Regions from separate parts of the Homo sapiens genome. Here region 1 is linked to region 2. A link means that fine-mapping ties the variant in region 2 to the expression of a gene that starts in the linked region. Tissue or cell type: whole blood. Region 2 holds a variant in brackets; the other region holds the start of a gene. All regions are shown on one strand. Distances are between the middles of the regions.

Region 1 (7,504 bases), 52 kb after region 2:
ACTCCTGTTCAGCCACAACAAAGAACATGTAAGCCATGCAGATTCATGGAAGACCAAAAATGAAGTAATACGGCACAAAAAAGAAGGAACTCAGGGTGGAAATTCACAGTGAAGACAACAGCTCTCTAGGGCTCAGGTCTGCTCTGTGCAGAGAGGGAGCTCACCCCCTGGGAAGAGGCCTTCCTTGCTCTTGGTTGGCCTGGATGTTTTGAGCAGCTGGGACAATATCCTGCAGAAAGTAGAAGGAATAATCACGAGGGGAAATGGGGCCCTGCTAACATGTGAGTAATAAAAGGGGGAGACAAAATCCAGATGGAAAGCTGATCCTGTCTTTACTTAAAATTCTGATATTTTATTCACCTTGGACTTTTCCCGTTAATGCAGATTTTAAAAATATTTCATTAAAACATGATTTATCTTGATTATTTGGGCACGCTCTTAAATTGTGCAGCCTGGGCAAGTGCCTCACTTGATCACTGATGTCCAGCCCCAAGGGAAAAGCAGGAAGAGAGAACCAGCCTCTAGTCCACAGAACTCAATGGCGATCAACCTCTGCAGGCCTGGAGTGGGGAGAGGCACGGCTAGGACCACAGCCTGGAGGGACCCAGGACGGCCCTGGAAGGCTAAGTGGGGGCGGAAGAGACCTGCCTGGGGCTGCAGCTGGGAAGACTGCTGGGCTTGGGGGGTGGGGCAGTACAGACCATAGGAGCGTTAGGTGTGCTGGGCCCAGGGGTGGCTCCTGGTGACTCACCCCCTTGAGGGTGGACCCAGTGTCTCCCCTCTGCCACACTGAGTCTTTAAGTATGTAGTTGGTTTCCTGGCTGCCCTCAGGCCTGGAGGGAAACCCACCTATTGTGCCAAGAGTGGTGGAGAAGCTCAGAAGCGGGGTGCAAAGTGGGGAAGGGTAGGCAAGGGCTCCAAGCAGGGAGTTGGGAGGTGATTCAGGGGTGAAGCTGCTGATAGGCTCAGGAGGGAGGAACATGGGCCCGAGGTGGGAACTCCAAGGAAGATAACAAGGCTGGGAATAGAAGGCCCAGAGCTCTGTTTCCCAGGCTGGAGCCTCAGGAAGGAGTTCCCAAGGCACTGGGGTAGTGGTAGCTAGAACAGCCATGGAAGCAGAGAGCTAGGAGTTTAGTCTCAAAACAGTAGTGAGATTTTCTCACACCTCACTCTCCTGGACAGCTGCCAGGAGATGTGTGCTTGTTTGCATGGCTGACATTTTTCTGTAAAACTCCCTTCACTCCACATGGAAATGACCCAGGTAGGAAATGACCAGGGTACAAATGGGCCTGATGGCTGGCCTACACTCTCCCTGGGGCGTTGAGGGAGCAGAAGGTGGGTCCCAGGTGCTGCCAATAGCCTCTGGGTGTGGAGTAGCCAGAGGTGGGCAGGTGTCTTTCCAGAAGGCAACCAGGGAGCTGAAGGGAGAAAGCCAGGGACCAAGGCCAGAGAGAAGGAGGCAAAGGAAAGGGTGGGAGTCAGAGAGAGCCTGGGATTGTACAGTCAGGAGGACAGCAAAGGAGGCCGGGAGGAGGGGGAAGGAAAGGGCCAGGCCAGGGTCAGTGGGGAAGTCAAAAGCGGTGCAGGCCTCTAAGTCCAGCTCTGTGGGGGAAGCATCCAGGTCTTGTGCTGCCGCAGCGCCTTCACTCTGAAAATAGGAAAACCACCAGCTAGGAATTTCATTCCTCAGTGTCCCCCCGCCACCCGCCCCAACACATCAACTGTGTGTTCTCCCAGGGCAGGGCCCCTGCCTTTCTGTTCTTTGCCCACCACTCTCACTCCCCAGCAGCCACCGTGGGCCTGGTGCTGAGCAGTCAATCCTTGCTGAACTGAACTGCCCTTGGTGGGGATGTCACACGGGTCAGACTGCTTTGTCAGCGAGGACTCTGGGACAGGCCAACTTGTGTCTCTGATGCAAACCAAGGAAAAGAGCAAGAGGTGAAACTGATGTTCCTTCCCAGCCTTCCCAGTGCCCTGTGCCCCGTGCCAGGCACTTCCTCTGGTTCTATGTGTTCTCATTTTCCCGATGGTGAACCTGTCAGGCCTTGCGAGTTCCCCTCAGAGTTAGGGTTCTCATTCCCCCGAACTCGCCCAGACCCCCAAGCCTGAGCTCTTTCCCTAGGTTGGTGGGACCTTCAGGGAAGGAGGCTGAGGGTGCCCTTCGGAGACCAGTGGCCTGCCTGGGGGATGAAGTGGAGGCCCTCGGATCTGGCCTGGGCGTGCCAGGGCTCAGTGGCAGCCAGAGAGGGGCTGGGCTCCTCCCTGGGAGAGAGGGAAGAGGAGCAGCTGAGGACAGGAGGTGGGTATCTTCTCAGGAGGATGGATGGGAGGGGCCCCTTTGTCATGGTGGGCTGGTGGATGGGGCAGGAAGGGGATGTGGCCTGTGGCTGAATTCTGCTCTCTTTGAAAGCCAGGGAAGTGGCTCCCACAATAAGCCAAGATGAGAGAACTCTAGGGTCCCTGCCTGGGCCCTCCAGAGTTCTCTCCTCCAGCCTCTTGCCTCTGGGTTAGATTTCCCTCAAGACACCCTAAGCTGGGGCACAGTTTCCACTGTGAGCTAGAAGTTTCCGTTTTCTTGAATGTAAATGGGGGGCGATAGTAGTCACTTCCTTTCAGTTTTTGCTCAAATATGTCACCACAGAGAGCCCTCTCTGACCATCCTGTTCCCAACTGCCAGGACTCTGCCTCCCCTACCTTCTGGATCCTTTCGCTGCTTTGTTTTTGTGAACGGCACTTTTCACTTTCTAGGAGGCTGTGTAACTGATTTATTGATTTTTGTCTGCTTTTTCCCCCCAACCCGCAAATACTAGAGCCACAGGGCAGGAGGCTTTGCCTATTTTGTTCCTGTGTCCCCAGCACCTAAAGCAATGCCAGGCACTCAATACATATTTGTTGAATGAACACGTGAAGGATGCGTGTGAAGTGTTTCGCAGGATTCTTGGCATCTTAAGATTATTGCTGCTGCTGTTGTTTGCTGTGTGACTTGAGCACATTCCTTAGCCTCTCTGGCCCTCTGTCTCGCAGTCTGTAAAATGAAAAGAGTGAACCACTAAAGATCCATGAGCTTCTTTCAAACTCTAAAAATCTTGGTGCCTCTGAATGCTCAAGAAAGTTCTTCCCAAACCTCAACAGGAACTCCTTTTTCTTTTTTTTTTTTTTGCAGTTCTCAGCAGCAGCTCAGCTGGAACTTAGCCGGAGGTGCTAAGGACTCCTTTTGCAATAGCCCTTCCTTTACTTCTTTTGACTCTGAGGATCAGAATAGGGTATAGGTTTGGGATCACGAGTCAGCCCAATGTTTCTTGGAACAGTTTCCATTCAGATAGTTATGTTTTATTTCATTGACTTTGATGTGTTGCTTCTGGCACTTTATTGTTTTCAATAGAGGGCAATTCATGATGTGCATAATTAAAGGTCATTTGATTTTCATTTCTTTGTTAAGAGTTTCATAAAAACAAACAGAGTTCAGGAGAAAGCAATTGCCAGACCATGCGCCCAGAGACCATGTGCCCTGATTTGGGATTTGGACACCTGGTCCTTGGAGATGAAGGTTCCCACTGTCCTGCCATAGGTGGGGCTCTGCCCCTGGCCTGGAACGTCCCCTGTGGGGATAGGGTCATCCCTCAGAAGGCTCTGGAGCATCTGTTTCAGGGGCTCAGGTCAACAGGACCAAGACCATCCTCTCAAGGCTCTGCCCTTTCTCTCAGGGCCCCTCTGAAGAAGTAGCTCAGAACACTCCTCTGCTTCTGTGGGGGCAGTTTCATGAGTAAAGGCAGCTTCAGGTTCCCGGTATTTGGAATTTGGTATTCGCTGAGTAACTGGGATGGCCTCGATGAGGGGCAGAGGAACAGGTCTGGCTAGTTCTGTGTTGTTTATACTGGGGATTACTTCACACGTCCCAACCGGCTTCCCCGCCCCATTTGGTGGGGGCTGGCCCTTGGCCCTCCAACTCCTTTACCCTACATGCCTGAGAAGCCAGGGACCAAGATGGATCTTCTCCTCGACATCAGCTAAGCCTGGAGGACTCTTCCCCTCAGAGACCATGGAGAGGGACAGCCACGGGGTGAGTGTGACCTCAGGCCTCGGGCCAGATTCTCCCAGCGCTGAGGAAGCAGGGCTGAGGCTGGGAGACAGGTGGGACAGCTACCTCTGTGTTTCAGGTTTGGGGGAAACTGGCTGTGCCTCTTCTAGTTTGAAGCTACTTACGATCAAGATCTCTTGGTCTCCTTTTAACGTGGTTCTAGAAAAAGCCCCTGGGAGGAGAAGCTGCTGGGATTTGGGGTCTGGCTGGTGAGCACCCCAGGGCTATGTGGCTGAGTCGTGGGTTTCCTGCTCTGTGGTCTGTGAGCACTCCTGCCGGGCATCCATAGTGTTACAGCACCAACTTTGCCGATTGGGAATCCAGGCTAATCTACTTTAATCTCATTTTTGCTGGTTGGAAAATCAAAAGCATTCTAACTGCAATTCAGGGGCATCTTGTCTAAACCCCTCACTACACTCCTAAACCTTCCCAGAAAACTGTGACTTTCTGGGTGCATTCAAGATTTTCAAGGGGATGTTTCAACCTCCGTTGGTCACTTCTTTTTGGACTTAATAACTTTCATGCTTGGGAAGTGCTTCTTGATGTTTAACCACAAGTCCTGCTACCACTCAACTTCCTTTCTTCTGCTGCTCTTGGGGTAGGAGAAAGCAGCTGGCCTGTCCTCTGTGGGAAAGCCAGTCATACACACATGAAGGCTTCCAAAGATCTTGTTCTGCTGTGCCTCCACTTTCTTTTCCTCCAGGAAATCCCTTTTGTGCTCTCATTTCTCCTTTAGGTCTTGTTTTCTGCCCCCTCCAAATTCTCTGTACCTTACCGACATGGTAGAGCCTGGGACTCTGGGAAGAATGGGCTAGCACTGGGTTTGGGAAAGATCAGCTCATCCTATGTTTTGGCTTATAGTTGGCTTGTGGTCCATTCTGCACCCCCAATGTGTTTCTGCAAACTTTACCATCATTTTTTTCCCACCATTCTTCCAGCCCCCTCTTGACTTTTCTTTCCCAGGCTGCCTCCCTTGCCCTCTGCTCTGGGCTCCTTCGTTCATGTCTCTACCTCACCAAAGTCACTTGGCCCTAGGCCTTGGGGGGTTATCAGAGCCTCTTACTGTTGAGCAGTAAGGGGGGTACACAAGGGCATGCAGAAGGTGAACCCTTAGTCACAGCCATGGGGCATCCTCCTTGGCAATATGCTGGGAGCCTAAACTAGATGGTCCCTAAACCCAAGAGTGAGAAGGGCTGAGCTATCCGGAGGGTGGCCATGCTCCCACTGGAGATGGATAGTCCATCCCTGAGACAGGGTGATGGGGCGATATCTTCCCAGGAAGCTCATCTCTTCAGAGTCAGGGATCAACATGAAGGCTGCTGGAGGGATACAGGACAGAGAACAGACTTCTTTGAGGAACTCCCAATTAATCTATGAATTAAGTGTCAAATATTATGATAGGTGCCATATTCATTCTGAAAAAAAGATTGTCCAAACTTACCTTGGAATGGAAGAATGGAATCATTACATTCTTATTTAAGGTTCTTAACTTCACTCCCCTATTTAAGATGGAACTCTGAGAGAGTGAGCCTATAGTTGGGGCTCGTATTCCCATCTGCAGCAGGTTTCTTAACCTTGATTAAATAGGAGTGGTCTGGGAGAAGCTGGTCACCTGAGCTTGTGCCTTCTCCTTGAGGGCTTTATTGCAGAGAGATGCATTGTGATTTCTGTCCCTCAACTCCAAAATGTCGTGAGGAAGATGGTGGCCAGTGGGCTTGAGCCTGATGGCACTCCTCTGTCAGCTGCTGGATCTTCAGAGGGATCTTGGAAAAGAGGTGGAGAAGGGTCTCAGTTTCTCATATTCAAAAGAAAGTTGCATGTCGTGGTGGACAGAGAACTGACCATGTTCCCCGTCAGCTTTGGGCAAGCCACTTCACCTTTCTGTACCTTAGTTTCTTCATCTGTAAAATGGAATAATAATACTACTCTCAAAAGAAGAATGTTGGACAAACTAAATTTAACAGAGTTTAATTGAGCAAAGAACAATTCTCAAATGGAGCAGTCCCCCGAAGGAGAATAGATTCAGAGAGATTCCCACACAGCTGCGTGGTCGGAGAGGATTTATGGACAGAAAAAGGCAAGCAGTGTATGGAAAAAGGAAGTGAGGTACAGAAATAGCCTTATTTGAACACTGTTTGAACAGTTGGCTGCCTTTGATTGTGCAAAATTGGTGATTGTTAACAAGAGTAGTTTACAGTCTGTTTACACGTCCAGTTGAGTTATAGTTCATTATGTACAGAGAAACCTTTTGATCCGAACTTAAAATATGTAAGGAGGCAGCTTTAGGCTAAGCTTAATTTAATAATACCTACCTCAAGGAGTCTCAAAATAGTGTCCTTCCCATAGTAAGGCTCATTTAGAATAGCATCTGGCATAGAGAGATAGAGATAGATAGATAGAGATGGAGTCAGAGAATGTTGAAATTTATCATCACTGCCTAGAATTTGGGGTGGGCTCCTATAAATTTGGACAAACATCTTCTTCTACCTGTGCCTCAGCTTCCCCACCAAAGAAGAGGGTTGGACACATTCCCCCCTGAGGCTCCTTTCTGGCTCCCTGACAGTCTGGAATTACATAGAACGGGGATGACAGGTGCGCCACACCAGATTTGTTCTTGACAATGCGTATTTTGTGCTTTTTCAATTCTCATTTTTAATTCTCAGAGCAGTGCAATGCTTATTAAAGAAAGACTGAATTAGACCCATTGATGAAGCAACATTCCTTTGTGGAGTGGATTTTCTTATACTGGGCCTTCTTCAAGTGGAACAGGTTCCAAATTAGCCCAAGGCCACAGGTGCTAGGGATTGGTGAGAACCGTCTGGGGGCCCACCGCTGGTCCAGGATAAGGCACCCTTTCCAGAGGAGCTGGGCAGTTCCTGAGATGGCTCACCCGCGGGTCAAGTCACTCTGCCATGCCGTGTCCCAGCCCCATCCCAGCCCCAGGCACCCCAAGGACCCTGGCACCTGCCCTATGCCCCTGCAGGTGTGTAGCCCTCACCTCGTCCTCCAAGGACCCTGGCACCTGCCCTATGCCTCTGCAGGTGTGCATCCCTCACCTCGTCCTCCAAGGACCCTGGCACCTGCCCTATGCCCCTGCAGGTGTGTAGCCCTCACCTCGTCCTCCAAGGACCCTGGCACCTGCCCTATGCCTCTGCAGGTGTGCATCCCTCACCTCGTCCTCCAAGGACCCTGGCACCTGCCCTATGCCCCTGCAGGTGTGCAGCCTTCACCTCGTCCTCCAAGGACCCTGGTACCTGCCCTGTGCCCCTGCAGGTGTGCAGCCCTCACCTTGTCCTCTGTTTCATGTTGTCATTGGTGAGGAGCAGACTTCCTTTGGCACAGCCACCTCGATTTCCCCTGCATTGTCCCCTGAGACTTGGCAGATGTGAGCGTAAGCGTGCGGGAGTGTGTGTATTGGGCCCTGGG
Region 2 (8,380 bases):
TAGTTTCTCTTCTTTCCTTTTTTCTCTTCCTCCTCTGGGCCTCAAGATATAATTTTGAGACAAACTGCATGTATGTTACCTCTCATCTTAAAACACAGCCTCAGGACGTGCTGTGACCTCCACTCCCTTTCCTGTCCCATACTGTACTCCCATGCCTTACGCACGTTTATTTACCTACGTGCTTGTTAAGCACACGCTATGCTCTTACCTGGTCATATATTTCCTTAGATGCCTCAGGAGCTGCGTCCTGATAGGGACCAGGCACCTCCGGAATTCTCTCTCCAACAAAAGCTTACTTCAGGAGTTGAACATATACCCTGCTGAAGAGTAACTAATTTATAACCTGGCAGGATCCACGATTGCACCAGCCCCTCCACCAAATAAGACGATAATTAAAGAGGACCACTGGAGCAAGTCACACCACCTGGTACCTCCTAACCTCCCCCTTGCCTTTTCTGCATTTCAGATCCTTTCTTAAAAAACCCCTGCGTTCCCCCCATGAATTGAAGAGTGGAATTGTTTGCTGCTCTTCCCCTGCTAGCATGGCAGCTAGCAGATTTTCCTTTATTATCCATTCTTTCTACAAGCAGAGAGCAGCCAGATCCTTTTGCAGGTTACAGGCTGACACATCCAGTTTCTTCGAAAAAAACATTTAATAAGGACTTATAAACAGAAGCTACGTTTGTGTCTCCATGATTCACCCCCAGGACCAGGGCTTATAGACCACAGGGGAAGGGTGATTCAGAAAAGATGTGTAGGACAGTTGAAGTATGATAACATCAAGGTTGTTTGACCTAAGGGCCGGATTTACAGTAAGTGTTTGCACTTACACAAGGAGCAATTGATAAATTGGGAATCTCAGAGGTCTTCTGGGAGGCTCCAAAGCCAACACGGCCAAAACTGTGGATTAGCATCCAACATGGAGTTGCTTTAGCCTCCATAAGGACTTCTCCCAGTCTCTTCTGGGTTTCCCTTGCTTGCTTGAAATCTGATATTCAGACCAATTTTTGTGTTGGGTAATAGCACTACTGGAGTGCTGGGTAACACCTCAGCACATCCTCAGTCTCTCGCACCTCTGTGTCACTTGGCTCATCTGAGGCCATCTCCAGGTGAACCAAATATGTGAGGATATGAGAGACAGACTGTCCATCACTTTTTCTTGGAGGCTGACACCTGCTTCAAAGTGTGTGTGTGTGTGTGTGTGTGTGTGTGTGTGTGTGTGTGCACTTGCAGTCATATATGATTTGCAGTGGCCAGTCTGTGGATTTGGATTTCATTGTGGTGTGGAGAACGTTGTCTGTTTGCCAAGTGCATATGTGTGTTTGGGACTGTGTGTGCATCCCTCAAGCCCTGCCCTTGTTCTCAGACAAACCAAAGAAGAGGGGCTCAGGACATTTCTGGCCAGCAAGGCCCCACTCCAGGCCTGCTGCCCCACCCACCCGGCCATACCCCGCCCTGCCTGTATTGTAGTTTGTACCTTCATTTGTTCCTGAGCTCTTGTCCTGTGTTCAAGAAGAATGAGAATTCGCTGACAGTTGAAGGGTGAGGATGGGCAGAGAATAATTTTATTGAGTGATGGACCAGCTCTCAGCAGAGAGGGGATGGGGAGGGGGGTGGTTCCCCGCTCCCACAGTTGGGTGTTTTTTTTTCTCAGTGTGGCTGGATCCAGGGCTTTTTCTGGACTCAGAATAGGGAGTGCATGCCGATTGGTTTGTGAGTATGCAAAAAAGGTTAAAGTGAAAATACCACTCAAAGGTGGGTACGACAGTGTAGAAAACCAATTAGGAAAGGGTAGGTGTATGTAAAGTAGGTGAAGGGTGGGGATCAATCAGAGGAAAGCGTGCCAAATGGGAAGACAGGTTCTCAATCTGGTCTGAAGATTTAACTTGCAGCTTGGCTTTCAGGTTTTAAGTTGTCTTCAACTTGGAGGTGGGGTTTCACCAGGGACCCGCCCTATCTGCCTAGGCATTTGACTGCCTCCTGTAACTATCACCTGCTCCTGGGAGGTTTCCCTGGCAGTGCCCAATGCCCACATGGAGGGCCTTATTTACTGCAGCTTTTGAGAAAGGGCCCCTAACTTAGGTGTGTGACACCAGCACTGTGCGTGGTCTAGGAGTTAGTGAGGCATTATCCCCATGGTTTGTGGAGATATAAACCCTATTTCAATATTTTCAGAGCGGAAATCTCTCTGCCCAGTGGCCTGGACTGAAAGTGTGCCAGGTTGGCTGGGGGTGGGAGTTGGGAGATCCCATCCTGTATCTAAGAGTCTACATTGGGACTAGAAAGACCTCACTCTTGACGATAGTCAGCGAAGGCAGGGGTGCCTCAGCTACATGGATGGGGGAGAGTGATATCTGCAGGCCTACCAGGACACATCATCAGCCTGGGCCACCCTCAGGAGACAGCTCTTGTTGCCACACCCCCAGATGAGTGGAGAGGGCAAGCCCCAGGCTTTTTTAATGTGTGAAGATTTTTTTTATACTCTCTGTTGCTCAAGTGAGGAATTAAGATGGTAAATTGCTCAGGAGTACCCTGTCATGACCCAAGGGGTGTAGCTGCCTTCTGAAACAACTACTTAGTTACCCCGACCTTTTAAAAGAGAAAGACACTGTGATGTTTCTTCCAGAACTTTTTTTTTTTTTTTTTGAGACAGAGTCTTGCTCTGTCACCCAGGCTGGAGTGCAGTGGCCCGATCTTGGCTCACTGCAAGCTCTGCCTTCCGGGTTCATGCCATTCTGCTGCCTCACCTCCCGAGTAGCTGGGACTACAGGCATCCGCCACCACGCCCGGCTAATTTTTTGTATTTTTTTAGTAGAGACGGGGTTTTACCGTGTTAGCCAGGATGGTCTCAATCTCCTGACCTCGTGATATGGCCGCATCGGCCTCCCAAAGTGCTGGGATTACAGGGGTGAGCCACCGCGCCCGGCAATTTTTTTTTTTTTTTTTTTTTTTTAAGACAGCGTCTCTCTCTGTTGCCCAGGCTGGAGTGCAGCGGCACAATCTCGGCTCACTGCAACCTCCATCTCTCAGGTTCAAGTGATTCTCATGTCTTAGCCTTCCAAGTAGCTGGGATTACAGGCACCCACCACCACGCCTGGCGAAATTTTTGTATTTTTAGGTAGATACGGGGTTTCACCATGTTGGCCAGGCTGGTCTCAAACTCCTGACTTCAAGTGATCCATCTGCCTCAGCCTCCCAAAGTGCTGGGATTACAGGCGTGAGCCAACGCACCTGGCCAGTTCCTGACCTTGTCTTTACTTTTATTTTTTGTTGACGTATAAGAGTCTTACGCGTTACCATTTTGAAGGAGGATCAAAATTTTTAATTCGTTCATATGACAATATTTACTGCACACTCGTTGTGGGCCAGATGCTATAATGATGCTAGGAATAAAATGGTGATCAAAACTAAGTCCCTTTCCCCAAGAAGCAATCTGGGCAGAGGCAGAAAGTGAACAGAGATTTTAATACACAGTGGTAAGTGCTCTGGGAAGGCAAGTACAGGCTGACTGGACAAAAGACAGAGGCACTAAACCACACTTGGGATAGAAGATAAGGAAAACTTCCTGAAGGAGGTGACATCTAAGTTGAGACTTGAGGGAGGAATAGGAGGTAGCTAATGAAGAGTGGATAGGGAGGGTATTCCAGACAGAAGGAAGTGTTTACTTGGAGATTAGGGAATATGGCATTTTTTAAGAACCCTGGAAAGTGGGTAAACTGGCACTCTTGTTTTAAGATGAGAAAACCACAGTGGCTAACATAGGTTAATACCTAGCTCAGGGCAGAGCCAGGATTTGAATGCAGGCTATTCCAATGTATCCTGCTGCCTCATGGAGAGCACCCAGAATAGGAGTTACGTCAGGCATGTGATTACTATACTTGAAAAGGAAGAAAAAGAAACACGGAATCCACATGTTTATTTTGTTTTGTTTTCAGTGTTCTGAAAAGTCCACCCTAAAGTTCTGTGTATTCTGGTATTCACACCAGTAGAGAGACATATGATAGGAGGCAATCATTAAAGGATCTTCTCTTTTTAAATTTTTTCTTAATTTTTATTTATTTATTTATTTATTGA[G/T]ACAAGGTTTCACTCTGTCACCCAGGCTGGAGTGCAGTGGCTTGATCTTGGCTCACTGCAGCCTCTACTTCCCAGGCTCAAGTGATCCTCCCACCTCAGCCTCCTGAGTAGCTGGGACTACAGGTGCAGGCCACCATGCCCAGGTAATTTATTTTATTTTATTTTTTTTGGTAGAGATGACATTTCACCATGTTGCCCAGGCTGGTTTGGAACTCCTAGGCTCAAACGATCCTCCTGCCTTAGCCTCCCAAAGTGCTAGGATTACAGGCGTGAGCCACCACACCTGGCCATATCTTCTATTAATATTTATTGAGTTTTTATGACCTATCGGGCACTATGTGAAATACTTCACATGTTGTGGCAGAGAATGGCCAGATGCTTAGTAATACCAGTTCCTCTTCCTGGGCACATGGGGCAACTATATTTCCCAGTCCCCCTTGCAGTTAAGTAGAATATGTGGCTGGCTTTTAAGCACTGTAAAGTTGAGTTGATGGGTGCCACTTCCAGGCCTGGCTGCTAACTCTGTCTTTGCTATTCTGCCAGCCATCTGGAGGTGTCCAGTGGAGGACTCCAAGGGAATAGAGGGAGCTTGGGCCCCTGAATCACCTCTTGGAGGGCAGCTGTGCAGAAAAGACACCCAGTTTGCATCAGCCTATTGATTGGGTGAGGAGTAAACCCTCTCAAGCCACTGAGATTTTGTGAAGTTTTTTTCATAGCAGCTAGTGTTAACTACCCTGAATAATCTGCAAACCTTATTTCATTTAATCCTTATAAACACTCAGTGAGATAAGCATCATTATCAGTGTTTTACAGATGGGAAAATGAGGTGAGAGACTGAGTCACTTGCCCATGTCATTCACTCAGTACGTAGCAGAGCTAGAAGCCTGTTCAACTGGTCTGTTTGACTCCAGAGCTCATGCTTTTACTACCATGTGAACAGTGCCCTTCTGAATCTTGGAAGAATTCTTGCAAGAGACAAATGTCAAGTGATTGAGAGAAAGAGAGAACGGGGTTGGAGAAAAAGACAAGGGGGAGGGCAAGAGAGGAGGAACAGCTGAGGGCTGAGAGTCTTGTAGATGGTAGAGGGACGTGGCTAGCCCAGGGAACCAGGGAACCTGCTGCGTGAACATCTGGCCCCTAGGGTTACCCTGGGAAATTTTGAGGGCAGATTTTGGGCTCTGGGTGGTTCCATTGTCTCATTTTCATTTGACTTTATCTTGGTGCTCAGGATGATGCTGTTAAATGGGCATGCCTGGGGAGTCGGATGGGCATCTGAGTTGGCAGGAAGTCTGTGCTTGAGTGTGCTAACAAGCGTAACTTGCAGTTTCTGTCCCTCAACTGGTGAGTAGGGAAGTTCCAGGACTTGTGATCACTGTGTCAGAGCTGCACATAACAAGGAGAGAGACACAGAGGGAACTGACCGTAAGAAGGAGACACAGAGAAGGAAACTGTGTGGGTAGGAAACTTGGTAGTTGTTGGGTCCAGGAGAATTGCAGATGCACAGTGAGGGGCTCGCCCAGCCCCAGCAACGGCCCTGGGAGAAGTCTCCAGTTGCCAAACCTAATGAGTGTCCACATCCCTTCACCTTCTCCCTGGCTCCCCCCTGGAGGAGCACCAAAGAGCTCAGAAGGGACAAAACCCCATTCTCAACATTCCTCTCGACTCTGTGTGGTGGCTCAGGCTTGAATGGGGAGTTCCTAGAACTTTAGCTGGGTGGGTGAAAGGCATCAGTGAAGGGTTTTAGGCAGGAGAGGGATATGGCAGATTTGCATTTTAAATAGAAGAGGAAATCTAGAGCATGAAGGTGAGTAGCCAGGGTAACTCACTAGTTAGTGACAGAATTAAAACTTTGGTCTCCAGATCGAAGCTCAACTCTCTGGCTCTCAAACCATAGCAGCTAAGTTTGTGGAACTGTGAAGACTGCGTGAGGTTGTCATGCCCATCAGTTTAGGGGGAAGGGGAAGAAGTACTGATCTCCCAGGTGAAGGAATGCCCATGCTAATTACTTTAAATCAGCAGAGCTGGGGCTAAGAGCCTTCTCATTCCTATAATCTGCCTGGGACACTGTTCTTGGTCATTGCCTTAGGTGGGAGGAGCCTGGTTACCTCAAAACCAACAGACCTACTTCTAGCCCCAGCTTGGTCACTACCAGTCGTGCACCCTGGAACCGGTCCCTTTGGCTCTATTAGCTGTTGGCAAGATTGGAATCTGGGCTGTTGTAAAGCCAGACACAAAGTGTTCTGGTAACTGATAATGGCTTCTCAAGTGAGAGTGAGAGGTGACAGCCTGCTGGCAGTCCTCAGAGCCCTCGCTTGCTCTCGGCACCTCCCCTGCCTGGGCTCCCACTTTGGCGGCATTTGAGGAGCCCTTCAGCCCCCCCACTGCACTGTGGGAGCCCCTTTCTGGGTTGGCCAAGGCTGGAGCCCACTCCCTCAGCTTGCAGGGAGGTGTGGAGGGAGAGGCTCCAGCGGCAACCGGGGCTGCGTGCGGCGCTTGCGGGCCAGCTGGAGTTCCGGGTGGGCGTGGGCTTGGCGGGCCCCGCACTCGGAACAGCCAGCCAGCCCTGCTGGCCCCGGGCAATGAGGGACTTAGCACCCGGGCCAGTGGCTGCGGAGGGTGTACTGGGTCCCCCAGCAGTGCCGGCCCACCGGCGCTGTGCTCGATTTCTTGCCGGGCCTTAGCTGCCTTCCCGCGGGGCAGGGCTCGGGACCTGCAGCCCGCCATGCCTGAGCCACCCACCCACTCCATGGGCTCCTCTGAGGCCCGAGCCTCCCCGTGGAGCACCACCCCCTGCTCCAAGGCGCCCAGTCCCATCGACCACCCAAGGGCTGAGGAATGCGAGCGCACGGCGCAGGACTGGCAGGCAGCTCCACCTGAAGCCCCGGTGCGGGATCCATTAGGTGAAGCCAGCTGGGCTCCTGAGTCTGGTGGGGACGCGGAGAGTCTTTATGTTTAGCTCAAGGTTTGTAAACACACCAATCAGCACCCCTGTGTTTAGCTCAAGGTTTGTGAGTGCACCAATCGACACTCTGTATCTAGCTGCTCTGGTGGGGCCTTGGAGAACCTTTGTGTCCATACTCTGTATCTAACTAATCTGATGGGGACGTGAAGAACATTTGTATCTAGCTCAGGGATTGTAAATTTACCAATCAGCACCCTGTCAAAACAGGCCACTTGGCTCTACCCATCAGCAGGATGTGGGTGGGGCCAGATAAGAGAATAAAAGCAGGCTGCCCGAGCCAGCGTTGGCAACCCGCTCGGGTCCCCTTCCACCCTGTGGAAGCTTTGTTCTTTCGCTCTTTGCAATAAGTCTTGCTACTGCTGACTCTTTGGGTCCGCGCTGCTTTTATGAGCTGTAACACCGCGAAGATCTGCAGCTTCACTCCTGAGCCCAGTGAGACCACAAGCCCACCAGGAGGAACGAACAACTCCAGATGCGCTGCCTTAAGAGCTGTAACACTCTCCGCAAAGCTCTGCAGCTTCACTCCTGAGCCAGCGAGACCACGAACCCATCAGAAGGAAGAAACTCCGAACACATCTGAGCATCAAAAGGGACAGACTCCAGACGCGCCACCTTAAAAGCTGTAACACTCACCGCGAGGGTCCGCAGCTTCATTCTTGAAGTCAGTGAGACCAAGAACCCACCAATTCCGGACACAAGAGGGAGTGAGGTCTGTAGAAACATTCAGCAAAAAGCACGCTGACTAGAGGGATCTAGCCCCTTTCTTTCATGGCCTGGATGTGTTTGGCCTCACTCTGGGTTGTATGTTGTGCTGAGGCCCACCACACCATCTTGGGACAACTGGGCCTTTGGTTGTACTTGGGACACCTCCCTCCCCCAGAATTATTTTAAGAAAATCACCTCGTCAGGAAGGCTGTGGACCTGGTCCATGAACTTAGTCCATTGTCATTGCTTTGTGAACTTGGGATGCAAGAAGTGAAGAACAGAACATTGACAGAAATATCTCGTGTCATTTCAAGACACAGTCGTGTCTTCCTTCTGCAGCCCAGATGGCCTTGACTTCTCCAGTTTTTAAGGGTGTCATTTCCCCTTAATTCTAAAATAACAACAGTTTGAACTCCCATCCCACAAATGCAGGAAGTCCATCTGCTCTTGGGTTTCCAATCCCAGAGCCATCCTAGAGGGCTTGCACCTCACCTCTGAGCGTCTCACGGTGGTGGCCTCTGAGCTGCAGCTGTTTGTTTGAAGTACGGACACAGGCCCAGCATCTTTGAAAAAATGCTATTGGAAGCTCTCAAATAACAAAAGTACCAAAGAGATAGTCTGTTACAACTGCTCAAAGCA

Evidence for each region. PIP is the estimated chance that this variant, and not a neighbour inherited with it, causes the effect.
Region 1: it holds the start of TMPRSS13, and the variant in region 2 is fine-mapped to the expression of TMPRSS13 in whole blood (TOPMed, PIP above 0.99).

The regions. Positions count from the first base shown.
Region 1 is chr11:117,925,843-117,933,346 of GRCh38, reverse strand. It overlaps TMPRSS13 (transmembrane serine protease 13), which reads left to right and starts at 3,945. Exons shown (of 13, transcript NM_001077263.3): 1 at 3,945-4,060. The coding sequence starts at 4,040. RefSeq lists enhancers at 184-722, 955-1,084, 723-1,262.
Region 2 is chr11:117,977,020-117,985,399 of GRCh38, reverse strand. No RefSeq gene overlaps it. Among named protein-coding and RNA genes, the nearest start is that of IL10RA, 5.2 kb to the left of the region's middle. RefSeq lists an enhancer at 7,902-8,071. The variant G/T (reference allele first, on the strand shown) is at 4,075.